Linked DNA regions of Homo sapiens: all the other regions are linked to region 2. The links come from fine-mapping of genetic effects on gene expression. A gene starts in region 2. Each other region holds a variant in brackets. All regions are shown on one strand. Distances are from middle to middle.

What was found. PIP is the estimated chance that this variant, and not a neighbour inherited with it, causes the effect.
Region 1: its variant is the best candidate, but not a certain one, in a credible set for the expression of ATIC in monocytes (BLUEPRINT, PIP 0.54).
Region 3: its variant is the best candidate, but not a certain one, in a credible set for the expression of ATIC in activated naive CD4 T cells (Schmiedel 2018, PIP 0.84).
Region 4: its variant is the best candidate, but not a certain one, in a credible set for the expression of ATIC in whole blood (INTERVAL, PIP 0.75).

What each region holds. Positions count from the first base shown.
Region 1 is chr2:214,479,493-214,485,546 of GRCh38, forward strand. The region is part of intron 3 of VWC2L (von Willebrand factor C domain containing 2 like); the gene reads left to right. Among named protein-coding and RNA genes, the nearest start is that of VWC2L-IT1, 28 kb to the right of the region's middle. The variant T/A (reference allele first, on the strand shown) is at 3,173.
Region 2 is chr2:215,309,467-215,315,520 of GRCh38, forward strand. ATIC (5-aminoimidazole-4-carboxamide ribonucleotide formyltransferase/IMP cyclohydrolase) reads left to right here and starts at 2,593. Exons shown (of 16, transcript NM_004044.7): 1 at 2,593-2,695; 2 at 3,032-3,158. The coding sequence starts at 2,677. It overlaps LOC124907975 (a long non-coding RNA gene), which reads right to left and starts at 2,506. Exons shown (of 2, transcript XR_007088075.1): 1 at 1,213-2,506. RefSeq lists an enhancer at 2,297-2,947 and silencers at 2,478-2,557, 2,568-2,937.
Region 3 is chr2:215,349,380-215,355,433 of GRCh38, forward strand. ATIC (5-aminoimidazole-4-carboxamide ribonucleotide formyltransferase/IMP cyclohydrolase) reads left to right here. Exons shown (of 16, transcript NM_004044.7): 16 at 157-385. The coding sequence ends at 276. Among named protein-coding and RNA genes, the nearest start is that of ATIC, 40 kb to the left of the region's middle. The variant GA/G (reference allele first, on the strand shown) is at 3,205.
Region 4 is chr2:215,399,754-215,405,807 of GRCh38, forward strand. FN1 (fibronectin 1) reads right to left here. Exons shown (of 46, transcript NM_212482.4): 20 at 4,636-4,902. Among named protein-coding and RNA genes, the nearest start is that of FN1-DT, 33 kb to the right of the region's middle. The variant C/T (reference allele first, on the strand shown) is at 3,662.

The sequences.
Region 1 (6,054 bases), 830 kb before region 2:
GACTGTTCCTAAATTTTTAAAAATAATCTGAACCAGGCATGGTAGCTTACGCCTGTTATCCCAGCAGTTTGGGAGGCTGAGGCAGGCGGATCACCTGAGGTCAAGCGTTCAAGACCAGCCTGGCCAACATGATGAAACCCCATCTCTACTAAAAATATAAAAATTAGCTGGGTATGGTGGCGGGTGCCTGTAATCCCAGCTATTCAGGAGGCTGAGGTAGGAGAATCGCTTGAATCCGCAGTGAGCTGAGATCGTGCCATTGCCCTCCAGCCTGAGCAAGAAGAGTGAGACTCTGTCTCAAAATAATAATAATCTGGATATAGAGCAAGAAGAAAGAACATTCAATCTAATAAGATTGTATTAGTTTTTAATACTTCACTGCACTTGGCCCTCTCTATCTGTGGTTCCGCATCCATGGATTCAACCAATGATGATTGAAAATGTAGTTAATCCTAGGATGGTTGTGTCATTAATGAACATGTACAGACTTTTTTCTTGTAATTACTTTCTAAATAATGTAGTATAACAACTACTTACACAGAATTTACGTTGTATTACATATTATAAGTAATATAGAGATTATTTAAAGTATATGGGAGGATGTGAGTAGGCTATATGCAAATATTACGTATACCATTTCACATAAGCACTTGAGCATCTGCAGATTTTTATATCCTTGGGGATTCTGGAACTAATGCCCTGTGTATACTAAAGGGCAAATGAATTTTTAAAAAATTCTTACTAATTCCTGATATTGTATGGTAATAAAAGAGATAATGTGAATTAACAAAACTAGAAAAAACCTAAAGTCCCAGATGTTTGTGATATGTTTTAAAGTTATGGTTGACTAAAAGCAAAGATGATTAAGTTTCCATGTCTGCATGATATTGGAAGATGAATGGACAATTACTTGATATGGATTCAATACATTCAGAATGGCTCTCTAATTGTAAAATGAAAGGAGATATGTTAGCATTCAGGTTCATCTGCGAATATTAGAAAAGCCCAAAGAATCACGCTCAGTTTAGAAATATCTATCTCTTGCACATTCAAGAAATCTAGAATAAATCAGTCCAGGGCTAGTGTAGCACTTCTTGGTGTCAGGGACCCAGGCTCCTTTCATCTTATTAGTCCACTAGACATGGTTTTCATTCTGGGGATAACTTCATGATCCAAGATGGCTACTGGAACATGAGTTATTACATCTGCACTCCAAGCTCCAGGAAGGAGCTTGGAAAATAGGCACACTCCCTTCCTTAAAGTACATCCCATTTGTCTACATCCCCCTGGACAGAAATCAGTCCCATGACCACACCTAACAGAATAAAAGGCTGAAAAAGTCTTCTTTATTCAGAGGTCCATATGCCAAGCCAAAAAAAAAAAAAAAAAAAAAAAAGGTAGATGTATTTCTGATGAAGAAAGAAAGAATGGATTTTGGAGGACAACTAGTAATCTCTGCTGCAAAAGATGAAGTGATTTGTTTACTATTATAACCTAAAGCCAAACTGAGCTAAAGTACTGAGCTAAGTGGGAAGAAGACTGTAGGGGCAGAGAAATGCAAACCTCCAAAGAAAAAAAATCAGCTTAGAAAATGGCAATAGGGATTCACCATAATAACACCAATGTCCTTCTCTGTCTACCTCCCTTTTCAATGTGACTCTGCTTTTCCCATTAAACAGAGGTGGAGTCGATTTCTCCACTCCCCAAAACTGGGCTGGCTATGAATTGCTTTGACAAATAGATTGCAGCAGAAATGATGTTGGGAGGCTTCTGAGGCTAAGCCTTAACAGATCTTACAGCTTCTGTTTTCATCATCTTGCAACACTCCTACCATTATGTAAGGAAGTCCAGGCTAGACTACTGAATTATGAGAGACTATGTGGAGAAAAAGGCTCAGCTGACAGCTAGGACTGGGATCTCAGACTCGTGAATGAGGCTATTTTTAGATGTTCTTGAAATCTGAGCTCTTTAGGTCTGAGCTGACAGCTGACTGAAGCCTTGTGAGTGAGCTCAAAAAAGACCAAAAGAATAACTGTCCAGTCAACCCCCAGAACTATGAGAAAGAACTAATCATTGTTGTTTAAACCCAGCAAGATTTGGTGTGGTTATACAGCAATACACAACTGATACATGGATATATTTTTAAGTAACCACAAATAATAGTTTGACATCTGATGTACCTAAAGATGCTGGTTTTTAAATTTTACACAAATTCTATAGTCCTGATGTTAAGCTGCATTACAAATACTGAAATATTGACTTACATTCTAATTTTGTAATATGATAGCATTGATCCCATCAAGTTTGCTCTTTTGAAGACATCACAAATACTTTATTGTATTCTTGAAAATAAAAATAACAGAAAGGTTTGTGTTCATTTAAGATGCCACTTCCCAGATACTGGTGCCTAGTATAATTTTGTAAATGTTCTTAGTTAACAGGGGAAAAGAAATGTTCAATACAAGGAAGACAATGCAATTAACGGAGAAAATAAAATATTGCTCAAAGCAAACCAACCCCTGATTTTAAAGCACATATTCCACTAAGGCAGACAGTATCATGATCTGGGATACTGATGATTGAAACATTGGCAAAAATATACGAAAATAAATGCAGCCACACTAAACATGGCAGAATAACTAAAATGAACAGTCGCAATAGGTCTAAAAACCAAATAGGAGTCTATGTACTCACAACCTTAAGAAAAGTGTTATTTGCCATAGGCCTTCATGCTCTTCGGTGCTCACCAATAGCATCTGATAGTATGCAGAAAAAAGATTTTTAATAATTCTAATGTGGATAAAGAAAATGTAAAGCAACAAGCTTCCTCCTAAAACACGCTACTCAATTCCTCCTCCCTCATAATGCCTTCTTGAGCCTGTGAACCATCCTTTCCATTACTGACCCCAGTACCAGCATGGAGAAAATTTTTTCTGTCTCTCCAAACTGGTAAAATATATATATACACATACACACATATATACGTGTATGTATGTATGTATGTATATATATGTGTGTATGTATATGTGTGTATCTATATATATACACACACACACACACATATATATATATATCTCTCCAAACTGGTAAACAAATATATATATTTACCAGTTTGAAGAGAGAGAAAAAAATTTAATATTAAAAGTTAATAAATAAATATATATATATATAT[T/A]TTTTTTTCTTTAATGGCCAGGCACTGTGGTATAACACCTATAATCCCAGCTACTTGGGAGGCTGTTTAGCCTGGGCAACACAGTGAAACTGCATCTCAAAAAAATAATAATAATAAGGTTTATTTAACATCAATTTCAGTCTACTTGATAGCCAGTTTGATGTTTGAATTTTTCCCCCTATTTCTCCCTAAGACCTATTGTCCTGGATTCTGAGCATCTGCCCCATTCGAGGGGGCGGGGCAGAAGTGTCAAAAGACCATTTGTTCTAAGAGTACTTGTGTGCAGTCTCTCAACCCATTCCTGGTAGCAAAGCAGCTACCCCTTCCTCCCTCTCCTTTGACCACCAGCAGCAGTTTGCAGGCAGTGAGCTTGCAATCAATATACTCTCCTTCTGCTAATATCCCTATCATATGAATGAGGAGGCTTGAAATGTGACATTCTAATTGACTGGTTGTTTAGCATGTCATGTAAACAGAACCTAAGTACTTCAGTTGAAACTAGCATTTCTGGTCACAGAGCCTGAGTTTTCAGCCCTACACCTTACTACTGTCTGGCCTAGATGGAGTGCAAACTAAGAGTACCAGCTACCACTACAATGTCCATGATGGCAAATAGATGGAGAGCAGGCAAATAGACTCTGATAAGCCATAATACAATAATCTGAGTTAATGGCTTAACTATTTTTTTTTCTGTTAGGCTTTCAACTTCAATTAGCATGATAAAAATTAGAATAATGTATCTGGCAAAAGCAAAAAAAAAAAGGAATTTCAAAGATTTTGAAAACTGCAGTGTGACAGTCAAGTCTTCAATTATTTGGTGAGTTGGTACCCAGAATATCAGTATTTCTCTCCTTCTGACCTCCAAAAATCTGTTCTCTTTTATCAATTATGGATTTCAAGACCCACAACACCTTGGAAAACAGCAATACGTTTACATTCAACTTAAATAGATCACTGCTTCCTGTGATGAGATTTAAGGTGACTTACAGCTAATTAGAACAAAAATAACAGTACGTGTGCTTGTCAGTAGGAAAGCCGTTTGATTTATGTATTAAAATGCTGCCATTCACGTTTGAGAATGAGACTCTTAACCTGCTGGCAGAGGTGGGATACTTGGGCTTTTGATCGAGGGATGGGGCTGCACAAGACAAGCCATGGTGAAGCAGAAGGGATTGGATTGGTTTTCTAGGGCTGCCATATCAAGGTACCATGAACTGAGTGGCTTGAAACCACAGAACATTTATTCTCTAACGGTTTTGGAAGATGGAAGTCTCAAATGAAGGTGTTGCAAGGGCCATCTTCCCTCCAGAAACTCTAGAGAAGAATGCTTCCTTGCTGCTTCTAGTTTCTGGCAATCGCTGGCAATCTTTGGTGTTCCTTGGCTTGCAGATTCCTTGGCTTGCATCACTCCAATCTCTGCCTGCATCTTCACATGGCCTGCTCCCCTATGCGCCTGCGTGTCTGCTTTTCCTTTTAATAAGGACACCAGTTACTGGATTAGGGCCCACTCTAATCCAATATGACCTCATCTAACTATTATCTGCTAAGACCTCATTTCCAAGTAAGGTCACATTTTGAGGTGCTGAATGGACAAATTTGGGGGAGTACAAGATTCAGTACAGTACAAGGATGCTAGGAAGAAAATCAACTAGTCTGAATTCTTTCCCAAGATTTGCCACTACCTAATTGTGTGACACTGGGCAACTCACTTGACGGCTCCAGGCCTCGGTACCTTGCCTTAAAAGGAAGGGCTTTGAACTAGATGTTCTCTGGGGGACTGCCAAACTCTAGCCACTAGTGGTTCCCTCATGTATTCAGTTTCAGCTCTCCCAATTTCCCCTATGAACAATGGCATACACTTACCACCCAGCTGGCTGAAGCAGTGATCATACGGCAGAACAATGGAAAATCATCTCCTGTTAGGTAGCTTAGTTAGAGAGACAGGAAGTTTCTCTTAGGCCTCTTTATGGGCTCAATTTTAAGATATGGCATCGGGCAGAAATCAATGAAGTTTTTAAAGCTCAAACATTTTATTTATTTCTACCATGTTTTATTTTAAAGTCCTTTGAAAAGGTTGCCTAAGACATGGTAAAAAGTGAAGCAACATGATAACATTTGTGTAATATTTTCCTTAATTTAATTTGGCCTTTGCAAGCTAAATGTTCTCACAAGTTCTTGGCATCATGATAATGTTGATATCAAAATTCCATACCAATGAGCTTTTAGGCAGTACCTTTTCTGAGCTCATCTGTATTTCCAGAGCATGGAAATGTATCATCATGAAAATGTATCATCATGAAAATTATTAAGGACCTGTTTGAAACTGAGACGTGAAGAATAAACACTTCTTACCTTTAGAAGTCTGTATCTGGCCGGGTGCAGTGGCTCATGCCTATAATCCCAGCACTTTGGGAGGTTGAGGCAGGTGGATCATTTGAGGTCAGGAGTTTGAGACCAGCCTGACCAACATGGTGAAACCCCATCTCTACTAAAAATACAAAAAAAATTAGCTGGGCATGGTGGTGCATGCCTGTAGTCCCACTACTCAGGTGGCGGAGTCAGGAGAATCTCTCGAACCTAGGAGGCAGAGGTTGCATGTGCCACTGTATTCCAGCCTAGGTGACAGAGCAAGACTCTGTCTTTAAAAAAAGAAAAAAAAAGTGTGTATCTTAACTACAACTTGTCGGGGAAGAAATAGCATGCAGTGGTAAAGAGACAAGCCTGATATCTAGGCTTGATATCTGATTTGATATCTAGCTGTCATTCATTCTCTGTGTGACTGTAGGTAAATTACTTAACCTCTCTGAGTTTCTACTTCCTCTTCTGAAAAATAAGACTAATCAAAATATCTTCTTCATAGATTGGCCGAAGAGATGAAGGCT
Region 2 (6,054 bases):
GGCGCCCACCACCACGCCCGGCTAATTTTTTGTATTTTTAGTACAGACAGGGTTTCACTGTGTTAGCCAGGATGGTCATGATCTCCTGACCTCGTGATCCGCCCGCCTCCACCTCCCAAAGTGCTGGGATTACAAGTGTGAGCCACCGCACCCGGCCTCTATTAATATTTTTTAGTTATACTTCATGTGTCTACATTTTCATTCCATCATGAGCTCCTTGAGGACAGTGCTTAGGTGATATTTATCTGTCTTCTGACACTGAGTTTCTGCCATCCAAGCAGAAAAGGCTCAATAAAAATGTATTGAATCGAATAAATATTTGTAATTCACATGACAGACAAATGCATAATGCCGAAGCAACTGTTTATTTCCCCTTATCAATAAATGTCAGCATTGTTTTCTCCTTTCCTTGCTTTCGATTTCCTGTAAAAACCTGATGGTGACTGGCCAAGGAAATATCCTTTTTAAATTCAAATTTGGCAAACACACTGAAGACATGCGATAATCTTAATATATTCCTCGTAGGAATGTGAGAAGTGTTCAGAGCAAAGGGCTAACATATTTAGAGGTCAAAAAATTGATTCCAGGCTGGACGCGGTGGCTCACGCCTGCAATCCCAGCCCTTTGGGAGGCCAAGGCAGGTGGATCACCTGAGGTCAGGAGTTCGAGACCAGCGTGGCCAACATGGCGAAACCCCATCTCTACTAAAAATACAAAAATTAGCCAGGCATGGTGGCACGCGCCTGTAGTGCCAGATACTCGGGAGGCTGAGGCAGGAGAATCGCTTGAACCTGGGAGGCAGAGGTTGCAGTGAGCCGAGATCGCGCTACTGCACTCCAGTGTGGGTGACAGAGCGAGAGTGTGGGTGACAGAGCGAGACTCTGTCTCAAAAAAAAAAAAAAAAATTGATTCTAGTCAATAGGTATTTATTTTGGGGAGTAAAGAGATGGGAAGAATTAGAGAAAGGAAGAGGAAAAACAAAAATAAATAGCATGCAGATAATGAGAAAATAGACTCATTTTTACAGCTGTGAGCTCAGACTAAAAGATAAACAATGCTATTACTTTGGAATATAATTCTAATAACACAAAAAAGACTCATAGACCACAATATGTATTTATTTTGTGGCAAAGGTGTCATTTTTAGAAAGAAACAAATGTGTTCAATTTTGCTTTCCCTGTTTTTAATGAATTAAGAAAGGTCTTCTCTTACCTTCTTTTGACTGTCATCATTCCTCTCATCCAGGAATATTTACAGGTTTGCAAGAAGACACCATCTTTAAGTAGTTTTTAGGCACTTTTACAATACTGACTAAATTGTATAAAATAGTATTATAAATTAATATTTAAATTATAATTTTATGACGTGAAAATCAACAACGAATGTCAATTTCACTTCGTTTTGACTGTCATCTGTGGCCTCTGGAGTCCCTCACTTAAATCATTGGTCCTTGGTTTTATTTTTTAAGCCTATTAAAAAGGAGGATGGGGCCGGGCACGGTGGCTCACACCTGTAATCCCAGCACTTTGGGAGGCTGAGGTGGACAGATCATTTGAGGTCAGGAGTTGAAGACCGGCCTGGCCAACACCGTGAAACCCCATCTCTACTAAATATACAAAAAAAAAAAAAAAAAAGTACAACAACAACAAAAAATTAGACGGGTGTGGAGGCAGAGGCAGGAGAATTTCTTGAACCTGGGAGGCAGAGGTTGCAGTGAGCTGAGATGGTGCCACTGCTCTCCAGTCTGGGAGACAGAGCGAGACCCTGTCTCAAAACAAACAAGCAAACAAGCAAGCAAGCAAACAAACAAAAAACAAGTTGGGCATGGTGGCTCACCCCTGTAATCCCAGCACTTTGGGAAGCCGAGGCAGGCGGATCACCTGAGGTCAGGAGTTTGAGACCAGCTTGGCCAACATGGCGAAACCCCATGTCTACTAAAAATACAAAAATTAGCCGGGCATCGTGGCGCCTGCCTATAATTCCAGCTACTCGGGAGGCTGAGGCAGGATAAACTCTTGAACCCGGGATGTGGAGGTTGCAGGTTGCACGTGACATAGCCGAGATCGCGCCATTGCACTCCAGCCTGGGCAACAAAAGCGAAACTCCATCTCAAAAAAAAAAAAAAAAAACAAAAAAAACAAAAAAACCCAGAAAAACAAAAAAACAACAAACAAAAAGGGAGGATGGTAGATAACTGTCCAGATACTTTCCAGCTTTGCCGCTATATGAACTATTCCTTTTGTTTAGTTTTCAGCATGGGAGCTTCTGGCACTTTTACGTACTTTCCAGCTTCTGGGGACCGGCTGCCTAGAATAACAGGCATTTGCCCCAGAGGCCGTGGAGTGGCCTCACTTTGGGGTCGTGGGCAGATCGCTGGCTCCCACGCCTGGACTTCGGGATCGCAGGCAGGATCCCTTCCAGCCCAAGCACTCCGCCCAGGCGCGCCAGGCAGAGCCCCACCCCATCCCGCCGTTCCCTTCAGCCCCGGGGCGCGGATCTTGCATCTGAAACTGAGCAGAGCAGGGCGCCGGGCAGGGCCGGCGGGCCACGTGATAAGCCCGGAAACAGCTCCGCCCCCTCGCTTCCTGAGCCGCCACATCCCGGCAGCCCTCCTACCTGCGCACGTGGTGCCGCCGCTGCTGCCTCCCGCTCGCCCTGAACCCAGTGCCTGCAGCCATGGCTCCCGGCCAGCTCGGTGAGGCCCTAGCGGAGCGGCGCGGTCTGCGTCCTCGCCTGCGGCCCCCCACGCTCCCGCCTTGGCGGCGGCCGGCGGGACCCGGCACTGCAGGGGCGGCGCTGCGGGATTGAAAGCCAGCGTCCCCGCTCCCCGGCCGGGCCGCAGCCTGCGTGGGGCCCGCCTTAGAGCAGCTCGCGGGTGTAAGACCTGGGGAGGCCCGGACCAGGCCTGCGAACGCAGGGTCCAGGTGCTGGCCTTGCGATTCGAGAATCTCCTCCCCCAGACCCTCCCAAGGCCTTGCAGAACACAGTGCAATGTGCTGCGAATCATGAGAAAAAATGTCTTCTCTTTCAGCCTTATTTAGTGTCTCTGACAAAACCGGCCTTGTGGAATTTGCAAGAAACCTGACCGCTCTTGGTTTGAATCTGGTCGCTTCCGGAGGGACTGCAAAAGCTCTCAGGGATGCTGGTCTGGCAGTCAGGTAAGGCATAGCTAGTTCCATCAGAAAGGAGTGTGATCACATTAACCAGGAAGTATTGTATTCCAGGCACCAGCAGCAAAACGCCTTATTTACTCCTCCCAGTAGCGCTGTGAGGTTGGTGTAATACTTCCCCACTTTATGGGGAAAAAAAGTGAGGCTCAGAGAGATTTAGCAACTTTTAAGACCCTGGACGGCTGGGCTAGGTGGCTCACGCATGTAATCCCAGCACTTTGGGAGGCCGAGGTGGGCTGATCACTTACGGTCAAGAGTTCGAGACCAGCCTGGCCAACATGGTGAAACCCGTCTCTACTAAAAATACAAAAATTAGCCGGTATGGTGGCACACGCCTGTAATCCCAGCTACTGGGAAGGCTGAGGCAGGAGAATCGCTTGAACCTAGGAGGCGGAGGTTGTGGTGAGCCGAGATGGCACTACTGCACTCCATCCTGGGTGACAGAGAAAGACCCTGGACAACACACTGGACAGATTTAGCATCTTCTGCACAAGTTTAAACAGTTGAGTAAGGGAAAAGTAGGATTGGAACCCGTGCTGTTCCTGATTTTAGGACACTAGTCTTAGCCCCTTCCTTAAACAGATTAACTTAGGTGGGCCACTTGTTATGCAAGGAAAACTTCAGTTACTTTGACTGGTGATTTAATAAAACTCGACATCATGAAGATTCCAATTTACCTGCCTTCCCTTAGAATCTCTGGTAACCATATGAAGGTGCAAATCATTCATTCCCACGTTCACAAGCCCTTCATTAGCTGACTAGGCCATGGAAAGAAGGGACTTAGAAATGATTAACCAGGATGCCATTGCTGATGTCAAGGAGTGGCATTCTGGGAGGAGAGGGAGGAAGTCTACTGAAAGGTAGAAAAATGAAAAAAACTATAGGATAGCTATTTAATAAACGGCAGTGAGAGTTGGGAGGAACGAGATGACCACCCCTGAAACATATTTTAGAATGAAAGAGATGAAGGATATCTGTCTGCTTTTTGTTGCCATGTGGAAAATTTGCTTCTTGGTTTCTAGATCCATGTAGAGGTAGGTTATTACCTTTTCTTTGTGCAGTTCCCAGCTATGTGAGCAGTACACAGCTTCCCTAAGTTTAACAAGTTCAGATGGTAAGAATGCCTTACTTTATTAACAAATACATAACTGTATATTTTCGGATGTCTTTTTGCGTCTTGTCTCTGTGGTTTTCATGGGAAACCTGTGAGAATCGTGGCAGGCAAGTTGGCTCTTTGCTCATCAGCAACCGAATGAGAATTCAAAGTCCAGACCTGCGTGCTTTCCATTGGGCCAAGTTGGGTCCTCCTATGGTAATGGAACCTTCGTAAAGCAAAATCCTCATCTGTAGTCTCTTTTTTTTCCCCACCAAACTTTGTATTATGGAAACATTTCAGACACAATCAAAAGTAGAAAAGTATAATGATCCCTTGGGTCCTATATCTGTCACCCACTTTAGGTACTTATCAACTGATTAGTCTTGTTTCTGTACCTATACCCACTCCTCACTTATCTTCATTATGGTCATATCTTCTTTAAAAACTGGAAATGTAAATGTGTTTCTCTTCTATGAAAGGATAAGAAGTTCACCATGAGTGATTTATTTAGACCCCAGCACAGTAAAGTTCACTGAATGAAATGTAAACAACTTGGAGCAATTGTTTTTTCTTCAACAAAGGCCACATTCAGTTGCAGTGGTATTTTATTCAGTTGCAGTGGTATTTTACATATATAAACTCTTATAGTCCTTATAACAACTTTTTAGTTTAGGTAGTGTTATCCTCATTTTATAGGTGAGGAAATTAAGCACAACGTAGTTAAGTAACTCGCTCGAGATTACACAGCTAGTTAAGAGGCCAAGATTTTTTTTTTTTTTCTCTGAGATAGAGTTTCACTCTTGTTGCTCAGGCTGGAGTGCAATGGCACTGTCTCAGCTCACTGCAACCTCTGCCTCCCAGGTTCAAACGATTCTCCTGCCTCAGCCTCCCAAGTAGCTAGGATTACAGGCGCCCGCCACCACGCCTGGCTAATTTTTTTGTATTTTTGGTAGAGACAGAGTTTCACCATGTTGGCCAGGCTGATCTCGAACTCCTGACCTCAAGTGATCGCCCGCCTTGGCCTGCTGGGATTACAGGTGTGAGCCACCGCACCCGAGGCCAAGATTTTGTAGGGGTGGAAAGGTGTGATCCTTTGCTCTCCATCGTAAACGTCACGGCCAATATTTTTATAAGAGAAGACAGGTTATAATAAGAGAAAAGCATAACAAATTTATTTAACAAAGTTTTACATGACATGAGAGCCTTCAGAATGAAGACCCAAAGACAGAGGAAAAACCATCCATTTTTATGTTTAGGTTCAACAAAGAATGGACAGAAAGGTGGAAGTATGATTGGACAGCAAGGATATGGTGTATGCTAGTAGACTGAGGTGGAGAAAGCCAGGAAAGCCTGTCTGTCCAGATTCTTCTTGGCTTCTCTAAAATTCTTTCTCCACCCCCTAAGGATCTCCTGACCTACTAATGGGCAAGGAGATGAGAGGATTTCTTTACGTCCAGCTCCTAGACAGAAAGCCAGTGGAAAGTTAGAATCATAAGTTTAAATCTTATGACTGGCTTTGGGGAAAAAGAGTTTTAGTTTCTGTAAACTGCCCTGGGGAAGAGAAATTCTCATTTCTGTGACTTCAGGGAAGAATGAAGGGTGAGAGGCAAGAGGGCAGGAGAAAGCTATATATATATATTTTTTTAGAGGGTTTTACTCTGTCACCCAGGCTGGAGTGCAGTGGCACAATCATGGCTAATTGCAGCCTCGATCTCCCAGGCTGAGGCAATCCTTCCACCTCAGCCTCCTGAGTATCTGGGACTACAGCTGCACACCAGCATGCCCAAC
Region 3 (6,054 bases), 40 kb after region 2:
CTTCTCCATTGGGTGGATGGAGAACCCAAATCCTGTTGTTATTTTGCCTTTTTGACTGAGTGTATCTTTGTTAGCATATGCTTTTTAGAGGGGGATTTTGAGTTTTGCAGGTTTTTACATAAAATCGCGTTTTGAAAATCAATATACTTCCCCCAGAGTGGTGTGGCGTACATTGCGGCTCCCTCCGGTTCTGCTGCTGACAAAGTTGTGATTGAGGCCTGCGACGAACTGGGAATCATCCTCGCTCATACGAACCTTCGGCTCTTCCACCACTGATTTTACCACACACTGTTTTTTGGCTTGCTTATGTGTAGGTGAACAGTCACGCCTGAAACTTTGAGGATAACTTTTTAAAAAAATAAAACAGTATCTCTTAATCACTGGATCCATAGTTTTTGGTAGTTGTGTTTTATGTTAAAGATGCAGGCTCTTTGAACTGACACATGACACATAACACATAAATGAGGAATTCCAGAGCACCCCTGCCTACCGGAGCTCAGCCCATCCCACAGCACTGCCCGTGTGAAACATAAACATTAGCAGGAACCAAACGAGCTGAGCAGCCAGAGGACATGGCACAAGTCACTGTGTACAGGCCACACTTAAGGACTGGGAGTTATACCCATCTTAAAGGTGGAGTATTGATGTAAATTACCTAGAATTCTTCTGCATGGGAGTTGTATATTAAAGGTCCATGTTGCCTCCTAGGGGAGTCTTCTCATGCCGTTTTTGTTTGTTTGTTTTTCATTTTTTTAATTTGTTATTTTGAGAGGGAGTCTCAAAAAAATAGCTCTGTCACTCAGGCTAGAGTCCGTGGCACCGTCTTGGCTCACTGCAACCTCCGCCTCCCGGGTTCAAGCGATTCTCCTGCCTCAGTCTCCTGAGTAGCTGGGACTACAGGCATGTGCCACCATGCCTGGCTAATTTTTGTATTTAGTAGAGACAGGGTTTCACCATGTTGGTCAGGCTGGTCTCGAACTCTTGACCTCATGATCCACCCGCCCTGGCCTCCCAAAGTGCTGGGATTACGGGCGTGAGCCACCGTGCCCGGCCCTCATGCCATTTATTTTTAATCACACTTCTGAGAAGCTTGGTTGTCTACTTTCCAAACAAACAGCAGATTGGCACCTGTGAACTGGAACCTTAGAGGGGATTGGTTTAAGTCTTGTTGACCCCCTCTATGGATAATCTGATGTATATTTTTCTCAGTGCTAAGTGAAATGTTTCCCAGAATTTCAGCAGCCCGAGATTCACCCTCTGGAGCTGCATAAAAATGTAGTCAATATTTGGTGCTCAGAAATTGTACCCAATATTCCAATTACAGGCTTAATCACTACAGTGGGCACAGTGGGAGGGCAGTGCCTTCCTTCATCAGGACAGACCTGTGCATCTGTGTGTCCTGCCTGTGTGCTCCTGACCATTCCCGTGCATTGCACCTGTGTTCAACTAAAACCCTTTGCCATTGTTCACCTTTACCAATGAGTCCTACCCTCTTCCCAAGTCTTTAACTTATCCCCTTGCTAAATAAAAATTTCTGAAGTTTTTTCTTAATGGTCATCTTTCTAAGTTATTTCTGGTTAAGCTAATCTTCCAGCCCTGGCCTAGGACCTGCCCACATTGAAACAAGGCTGACTTGTGTGATCAGTAAAATACTGCAGAAAAAATAAGACTTTTGAGGCTAGGTCCTAATACATTGCAACTTCAGCCTTAGTTTCTTGGATTACTTCCTCTGGGATAAGCCAAGACCACGTTGTAAGAGTTAAGCAGCCCTCCACAAGGAGAGACGCCATCTTGCTTACACTAGTTGCCAGCCACATGAGTGAGCCATCTCAGAGGTGGATCCTCCAGCTTCAGTCCCAGGCAACATCTGGCTTCAACCTCTTCAGAGACCTGAGCCAGAACTGCCCAAAAGAGCTCTTGAATTCCTGACCCACAGATACAGAGAGATGCATACTGTTGTTAAGCCACAAAGTTCTGGGGTAATTATGTAGCAGTAAATAGCTAATACAGATTTTGGCTTGTAAATTAAGTGTGTGTTGTCTTTTTCATGGTTCTTTGGCTTGACCAAAGGTTAACATTAAGGGTATGATAATGGGAACAGGCTGAGCACTGTGTCTCCTGTCTATAATCCCAGCACTTTGGGAGGATTGCTTGAGGCCAGGAGTTCAAGACCAGCCTGGGCAACATAGCGACATCCTCATCTCTAAAAAAAGAGAAAATTTTAATTAGCTGGGCATGGTGGCTCCTGTTTGTAGTATTCTTCACATAGATGAAGAATAAATAAGTGGAGAATATGCAACTCCCATGCAGAAGAATTCTAGGTAATTTACATCAATACTCTACTGAGGGGTATAACTCCCAGTCCTTAAGTGTGGCCTGTACACAGTGACTTGCTTTCAAAGAGGAGAGTATAGAAATGGGAATAAAATAGTAACTACAGTGGAGAAAACTGACACTTTCTCAGCCAGATGATCAAGGTCAACGTCAATAGTGTCATGTTGCTAGGAAATACCTCAAAATAGGAGAATAGCACTTTACCTTTTTGGTCTTCTTTCCAAAACCCTGTACTCTCAGCTTAATCATGAGAAAAACATCAGATATAACCTAGCCGAAGGACTTTACAAAATACCTTCCTACTGTCAAGATCATCAAAAAGAGAAGCATGAGAAACTTTCATGCCTAGAAGGGCCTAAGGAGATGTGGTGAGTAAATGCAGTGTGGTGTCCTGGATAGCATCCTGGAACAAAAAAAGGACATTAGGTAAAAACTAAGAAAATCTAAAGTGTTTAGTTAATATGTATCAATATTGGTTCACTAATTGTAATAAATGTACCATGCTAATGTAAAATACTAATAAAAGGGGAAATTAGGTGTGATGTATCCTCACAATTTTTTCTATAAATCTAAAACTCAGAAAATAGGCCGGGCATGGTGGTTCACACCTGTAATCCCAGCACTTTGGGAGGCCGAGGTGGGTGGATCACCTGAGGTCAGGAGTTCGAGACCAGCCTGGCCAACATAGTGAAACCCCGTCTCTACTAAAATTACAAAAATTAGCCAGGTGTGGTGGTGTCTGCCTGTAATTCCACCTACTTGGGAGGCTGAGGCAGGAGAATTGCTTGAACCTGGGAGGCAGAGCTTGCAGTGAGCTGAGATCACTCCACTGCACTTCAGCCTGGGCAACAGAGCAAGACTCCATCTCAA[GA/G]AAAAAAAAAAATTAAACTATTAGAAAATAAAAAGCCTATTTTAAAAAGTATATAACCACATTCAAGTATCATACTAAAAGGATAAGTCATTTTGAATATCAAATACCCAGTCACCTTTAGATCTCTCCCAATGGCTAATTTTTTTTTTCTTTCAGTTTTTTGATTGTGCAACCCAAGCCTGGTACATCATTGCATTTGATTGGCATGTCTCAAGTATCTTCAACACCTGGTTTCTCCTCTTTAGATTTTTTTCTTGCAGTCGATTGACTGAAGATTTTTGGTCTCATAGTTCCCACGTGCTGGGCTGTGCCCTTGCATTCCTGTGATGTCGTTTAATTTGTGCCTCTGCTCCTTTCTTACACATTGATAGCCGTAGTTATGTAAATTTTTTTAGTTTGATTTGTTGAGAATTTAGAAAAAGGTTTTGAGACTTCCCTCCATGAGGATGAGTTTTCCAATTTCTTCCTGCAGGTTTATAAATGTTCACTTCCTATATATTTGAGGTTAAAAACACGGACCATGTTTAAAGTTATTATTGCTTTTGGTTTTGAGTTTTCTTTAATGCATTTTGTGAACCTTTCCCTTTGCGCTCAGCCTATTTGTATTCAATTATTGATACATTTGAGGCCTATTTTTACTATCCTGTAAAGTTTGACCCACTTTTATTTCCTTCCTTGACATTGTTTTGAATGTACGGTTGTATTTCCCCCCTAATAAGCTAAAAGCTTTAACTCCCAGTTTCTCCCCCATCACCCCTACCTACCCCACCCCATTCCAAACTCCTGTTGATTCCTGGACTTGGGGTCACATTTTCACTTAGCCTATTTTTTAAGACCAGACTTTCTAAGGTTTGTGTTTACCTTCACTTCATCTATCTATTGCAGTGCCTCCAGTTTCTCCTCTTGTGTTAACTGTGTGCAGTGTCTGTGTGATGAAGCTTCTGAGATCTTACATGTCTAAGGTTTTGTTGTTGTTGTTGTTGTTTTGTTTTTTGAGACAGATTTTCATTCATGTGGCCCAGGCTGGAGTGCAATGGCATGCTCTCAGCTCACTGCAACCTCCACCTCCCAGGTTCAATTGATTCTCCTGCCTCAACCTCTTGAGTAGCTGGGATTATAGGTGCACGCCACCACACCCAGCTAATTTTTGTACTTTTAGTAGAGATGGGGTTTCAGAATGTTAGCCAGGCTGGTCTCGAACTCCTGACCTCAAGTGATCTGCCCGCCTCGGCCTTCCAAAGTGCTGGGATTACAGGCATGAGCCACTGCACCTGGCCAACTAAGGATATTTTTATCATGCTTGTATATTTGAATTCATTTTGGCTATGCTTACAATTCTGGGTTTTAAATTCTTTAATACTTTGAAAACACTGTTTGGTTTTTTATTGCATCCATTGTTTATTTAAAATCTGATGTCAATCTGGTTCTTGTTCCTTGTCAGGAAACTTTTTTTTTGAGACAGAGTCGTTCCCTGTTGCCGATGCCCAGGCTGGAGTGCAGTGGTGTGATCTCCACTCACCACAGCCTCTGCCTCCATGGTTCAAGCGATTCTCATGCCTCAGCCTCCCGAGTAGCTGGGGACCACAGGTGTGCACCACCACACCCGGCCAATTTTTGTATTTTTAGTAGAGATGAGGGTTTCACCATGTTGTCCAGGCTGGTCTTGAACTCCTGGCCTCAGGTGATTTACCCGCCTCAGCCTCCCAAAGTGCTGGGATTACAGGTGTGAGCCACCATGCCTTCTCAGGAAACTAATTTTTTCCTGGGTATTTTCAAGCTTCTATAATGTGTTTAGGTGTGGGTGTTATTTGTATTTCCCTTTGTTGGCACTCTGGGTTTTTCATTCTAGGAAATTTATTTCTGTTCTTTGTGCTAATATTTCCTCTCTCCCATTTCTTCTGTTTTTTATCCAAATGTTAGCATTTCTAAGCAATTCCTATATCTCTTAGCCTTTCTTTTATATTTTATATTTCATTTTCTTTATTCGTCCCTCCAGGAGATTTCTTTAGTCTGGTCTTCTAATTTTCTCATGAATTCCTACAATGTATCCATTCTGCTGTGTGTCCTGTCTATTGAGCCCTTTATTTCAGGAGTTTTATTTTTCCCTTCAAATATTTCTGGTTTTCTTTTCCAATTGTTGGTATCATCTTTCTAGCTTTGTTTTACTATTTCTACTTCTGTTAGGATCTGTAATCTAGTATGTTACTATTCTTTTAAAGTCTCTTTACTCAAGTGTTGTGGTATGTTGGCCTGTGAGCTCATTTTCCCTGACTAACATTGGCTACCCAGCAGCGTGTGCTTGAGACAGCCCAGCTGATGCACTCCTCGCCAGCCCCAAGGGGTTCATGAAGGACAGGATTGAATGAACCCCGGGGAGGAGCACCCAAGCAATAAGAGCAACCATTCTTCACTCTGGAAAACGACTCAGTTTAGGGCTGTCAACAGCTCCTTTCTCATTTTACTGTCTCACTTCCCTGTGTTATGCCAAAAAAAGCAGTGTCCTGCCTTAAGCCAAAGTGCCACCCCTCACATGCAAGCTTACTCCTGGGTTCCTCATATTTTGCTCTGTGAGGTGGTGTTTTCCTTTATATGTACTCAAGTTAATCTTGGTGGAGGTAGCCAGTAACCAAGGAAGTTGAGCACTTTGGGAGGGTCTGGCACTGGAACCCCATTAACATATATATGTCTAGTATAATTCAATCATTCGAAACGTCAAGAGTGGAGTTTCACTGGTGTTTAAGTGAAATGCATAATGATCTTATGTCTGTTGTTTCCAGCAGAAGGACAGAAGATCCATAATGTAACAACGTCCTGACCAATACTGAGTGTATTTCTATTGGGGGATCCCC
Region 4 (6,054 bases), 90 kb after region 2:
TGATGACAATAAATTTCCCTATATCGTCAGTGTAAAATCCCTTATAAAATGTAAAACTGGCCACCACAAACTGATTATCATATTGTTTCTTAACCATTAATTTAAGAACAATGGTAAATTATAGAAGGTGATCTAAAAACAGCTTTATGCTGGGCGGGGATCGGTGGCTCATGACTGTAATCCCAGCACTTTGGGAAGCCGAGGTGGGTGGATCACTTGAGGTCAGGAGTTCGAGACCAGGCTGGCAAACATGGTGAAACCCTGTCTCTATTAAAAATATGAAAAATTAACTGTCATGGTGGCTCATGCCTGTAGTCCCAGCTTCTTGGGAGGCTGAGACACAAGAATCGCTTGAACCCTGGAGATAGAAGTTGCAGTGAGCCGAGATCATGCCATTGCACTCCAGCCTGGGTGACAGAATGAGACTCCGTCTCAAAAAAAGAAAAAAAAAAAGCTTTACGCTGAATTATTCCACAATAATGGTCAGCTATTTTTGGTTGCAATAAAAGATGCTATATAAAAGTTAAACAAAATCTGCCACCATGGATGCACTTTGAAGTCTAAAGATTTGTACTTTAAATACGTGATTATTCTTTCAGAATAATACTGCAAAAATTTAGTATTTTATCACCAGAATCAGGAATTATAACAAATTTATTTTGCATTTTCTAGCATCCTGACATCACTGTTATTTTTCTTATTGAAAATATTACTTTGGCCAGGCGCAGTGGCTCATGCCTGTAATCCCAGCACTTTGGGAGGCTGATGTAGGTGAATCACTTGAGGCCAGGAGTTCAAGACCAACCTGGCCAACATGGTGAAACCTTGTCTCTGCTAAAAATATAAAAATTAGCCAGGTGTGATGGTGGATGCCTGTAATCCTAGCTGCTTGGGAAGCTGAGGCAGGAGAATCACCTGAACCTGGGAGATGGAGGTTTCAGTGAGCCAAGATCACACCACTGCACTCCAGCCAGGGTGAGAGAGCAAGGCTCCATCTCAAAAAAAAAAAAAAAAAAAAAAAAGAAAGAAAATAAAATTTTACTTAAACAATTTTTTTTTTGAGATGGACTCTTGCTCTGTCACCCAGGCTGGAGTGCAGTGGCGCAATCTCATCTCACTGTAACCTCAGCCTCCTGGGTTCAAGTGATTCTCCTGCCTCAGACTCCCAAGTAGCTGGGACTACAGTTGCCCACCACCACATCCAGCTAATTTTTGTATTTTTAGTAAAGATGGGGTTTCACTATGTTGGCCAGGCCAGTCTCGAACTCCTGACCTTAGGTGATCTACCCACCTCGGCCTCCCAAAGTGCTGGAATTACAGGCATGAGCCATCACACCTGGCCAAAAAAAAAAAAAATCTTATTTTTAAATAAAAGATTTGTTTTGGGTTTTAGCACCAAAAATAAGAAAGAAAGAAAGAGAGAGAGAGTGAGAGAGAAAGAAAGAAAAGAAAGAAAGAAAGAAAGAAAGAAAGAAAGAAAGAAAGAAAGAAAGAAAGGAAGAAAGAAAGGAAGGAAAGGAAAGGAAAGGAAGAAAAGAGAGAGAGAGAAAGGAAGGAAGGAAGGAAAGAGAAAGAAAGAAAGGGAAAGGAAAGGAAAGAAAAAGAAAGAAAGAGGCATGTATATATAAAGTTAAGATAGAGATTTCCAACAACCTTGCAAATCTTATTATAAATGTAGAAAGGTAAGATCGCAGAAGGCCAGATATTTTGAGTTGGGTAAGTTTAAGTTCAAGGGTATCAAGTGTGTTCATAGCTCTGGTCACATGTTTGACATCTCCACAATTCTTCCTCTCTTTACATCTCAATCAAATTTTGTTCCCATTGGGAAAAAACCTCTGAATGCATTTATACTAAATTATGAATGGCTGGCAAGACAAAGAATTAGTCTCCAGAGTTATACAAACAGGGATTAAAAAGTGTTCAGACTCCAGTCTCAACTCAACTCCAGTCAATTTTTTTTTCTTTGCCATGTGGGAATTTAGAATCAACATCGCAATTCTCGCATTTTTTTTTCAGTCTGGATTCTAAGGAGCCATTTTTTATTTTTATTTTAAAAATATTGTGTGAGAAAAAGCCAAATATATGTGTGGGCCACTTCATAATGATAGCTCTAATGGCTGAATTGAGGTACTACTGGTTTAGTGGGCTGTTTCATCTATGTATGTTATTATTTTGATGGTGTTTGGTGGGGGGTGGGGGGACATGACTGGGATGGGTGACCCGATGCCTTTTAGTACCTCTGAAATTATACACCACTTGACTGCTGGTGACTGTGCCAAAATGCCATGGCCAGCCCTGTGTGACCATTTTTAATGGCCCACAAAAAACAATTCAGAGAACAGTCAGTTTCTTTCACTGAACATCTGTGAAAACCACAACTTTTTTTACAAATTATATTCGCCTCAACTGTCCTGGGCTTTAAGACTAGGTATTTTCTATTGCTTGAGCCAGCCACCTAGAGTCTTCCCAAGTTTAAGATGATGCTCTCTGCCTGGGAAGGCCATTATGGGAAAATCACCAAACCACAAACCCACAAACGATGTCAAACAAAGGATGTGATTCTAAGTGTGAGCTATGGGTTCTGGCAGGTCTTGTTAGGGAAGAACAGCCCAGCTGTTAAAGAAATAAAATTTGCCCTATCAATATAAGACTAAGCTGAATTTTCCCCAGAAACAGCTTTTTCCCCTAACTTTTCTCACATTTGCTCTTAAGAATTTAGCACAAGTTATAAAACTCAGAAAAGTTACTCCCAGAATTCAGCTTAGTAAGATAGTAAAAAACTACAGAAATTTAGTAATTTCAAAAACATGCAAGCCTTGTGGATGTTTACAGCCTTAGGGAGTGCTTAAAGTTCAAATGGAGTTGTAGAATACCCTGCTTACATTAGTTTATTTAAATATAAGCTTCATTTAGCTGTTTTTATTATTATTCCTTTCTCAATTATCTATTCACCAAATAGTTTTTGAAAGCATACAATGTTCCAGACACTATGTTAACCTTTATCTAATAAAATTAGTTTTGGCTATCAGTACTTCAGTTAAAATCATTATATTTTATATGAATGTATTATGCAAAGCATAAAATAATATATCCAATATATCAGTCTTCAGAAGTACTTGAAATATCTTGGCCCACCACCTTCCCTTAATTATTGTTAGCATCATTAAAAATGCTTTTTCTTTTATAAGCACTGTGTTCAACAAAAGAAACTACATAAAATATGTCTCATGTTAAGGAATGAACAAGACAACTATAGAATTCTACATTTTAGTAAAAGACGACATCTACTGAAAGGGCGCATTCACTGAAATCTCCATTCTAATTCACTGAAGGACATTTATAAGAAATGAATATTTACAAGAAATATAAAGACATTAATTTCATGAGAGTAGATCTTAGACTATCTTAGAACCGTGTAAAATTTTAGCCAAATTTTCAAGTAAGCTTATTTGCAAATTAAAAGTGAATTTTACTTGCTTACGATTAACTATTATTTAGGAAAAAGCCTTCATGAGCCAAACTTCATACAGTAAATTTAAATGGAAGTAAGTTTTTCTTAAAGTATGAATTCTTATGGGGAAAAGTTTGTATTTTCTTTGGGAAATCAATTCCATAGTTATTTACAAACTAGGCTTGTATGGACTTTTTGAATGCTTTTTAA[C/T]ATCCATACTTTTAAATTAGTCGAAGAGTAACATTTGTTGAAAGCTCTTAGAAAATTGCAAACTAGTCCATGGTTAGAATATATGCTGAAAAAGTACTTATGTTAGGTGCTTCTATAATTCAAAATGTCGAGTTGAAAATAACAAATGATGTTCAGCTAGAAATAAGGAGTCTCATAATTCTCTGTAATGTAAATGGAAATGTATTTAATAGGAATCGGTTTGTGAATAGAGGTTGTTATTGTGATGTAGATATGTGGGAGATTTAAGACCACTTCCTTTAAAATGTTGAGCAAAAGGATAGACATGACCAAAAATTATTGTTAGTATTTTTCTCCTCTGAGGAATTTCAAGAGTAATTTAAGAAAAGAGCGATTCCGTCTGCAAAAGTACTTTAATCTTCTGCAGCCAACACTCATAAAGAAATCATTTCCTTGGCTTCATGTTCAATTAGTTGGTTCCCATTCAATCCATAGATATTTTTATTCTGCATTTATAGTTACTATTCAATGCCCAAAGTAATAGAATGTAGACATAGGTGCTAATTTTTTCTTGCGTTAACTAGTGTTTGGTAAATTCATTTAATGTAATCGAATTTAATTTTTCTAATAACAGACTGCTTTAAACCCATGTTACTCAAAGTGCTGGCCCTAGAGGAAAGAGCGAGCTTGGCAATGTGTGCAAATTAACACACTGCTTCCTTCATCAAGAAAATCTGGCTTCAGAAAAATTCTCAGCTGTACTAAGCAGTGTGCTTTGTGATTTACGTTCTGGCACAACCGTTTTTCTTGTTGCAGACTAGCAGCAAACAATTAACGGGCCAGCAGCCAGTCTATGGAGCACATTTTTAGTATCACTGATTTAAATTATGTACTAATTTTTTAATGTTTTTTTTGTTTTGTTTTGTTTTGTTTTAAAGCATGAAGAATAGAGAATGTAAATATAGTTAAGAAAAGGCACTTAATTTTCAGCTTACGTGTGGTAAAGACTCCAGTGGCTTTGGGGCTCTCTTGGTTGCCCTTTATGGCCACGAGGGATACGGTGTACTCAGATGCAGGCTGCAGATTCCTCAGTGGGTACTTGGAGACAGAGGGACCCACATTGTACTGCCTGGGCTGTCCTCTTCGGGTAAGGCCCACGGTCAGTCGGTATCCTGTTATCTGGGCCCGAGGTGGAGTCCATCTCACCAGGACAGTAGAATCAGTTTCATTGACAAACTGGAGGTTAGTGGGAGCATCCAGTTCTAGGAAAAAAGATGAAACATGCCAAGAAATATTTAGATCAGTAATGATCATAACTCAAGTCCTGAAACTTGATTGAATGTCTAAGTTTTCTCTCCTCAAGGTTGTAACTATGTGAAAGTCAAAACCCTGGAAAAACTGAGCCAGTAAGAGATTGAGTGCTACACAAAACTTTGCCAAAACTCTGCCAGTCATGAGAAATTGTGGAACCATTTTGCTTGACTGTGATCCTTTGGGAAGTCTAATTTTCCAGCAAGACTTTCGCATCAGTCTCAGAAATTATAGTTACATTAAAGCAATGGTATTTTTAAAAAGGCAAAACAAACACTTCTGAAGTTCACAGTTAGCTCTGAGCCAAACAGATTAAGGAAAAAGGGATATGCCTCCTAAAATGACAGCAAGAAGAAGCTCTCTATGGGTCAAAAGCAATATTCTGTGAATAGCCCTTTGCTAGAGAAATAAAAGTTATTTTCACATGGTTCAGATTAGACAGTAATTACAGTAATGATAACGTATCCTCAGATTCATGGTAGGATACTGGTGAGTTTGCACTATCAGAATCACATAAGTTGTGGAGTTTATTCTTGAGAATAATAACCAGCAGTTTTCCCACCGAAATTTAAATTACCTTTCAAATAGAGGAAATCTTTAAGAGGCAGTCGAGTATAATAATTGAGAGCATGGGCTTCGGACATAGGTTATAGAGCCAGCTCTATCCCTTCCTATCTCTGTGACCCTACAAGTTGCAGAACTTTTTTAAAGCCTCAGTTTCTTTAAGTATTCAATACGGATACTAGTAAGACCTTCCGGCTGGGCACGATGGCTCACGCCTGTAATCCCAGCACTTTGGGAGGCCAAAGTGGGTGGATCACTTGAGGTCAGGAGTTTCAGACCAGCTTGGCCAACACAGCGAAACCCATTTCTACTAAAAACACAAAAATTAGCAGGGCATGGTGGCACACGCCTGTAGTCCCAGCTACTCGGGAGGCTGAGGCAGGAGAATTGCTTGAACCCAGGTGGTAGAGGTTCCAGTGAGCTGAGATGGTGCCACTGTACTCCAGCCCTGGCGACAGAGCGAGACTCCATCTCAAAAAAATAAATAAATAAAATAATAATAATAAGACCTTCCTTCCTAAGGTCAAAACAAAGAGTAA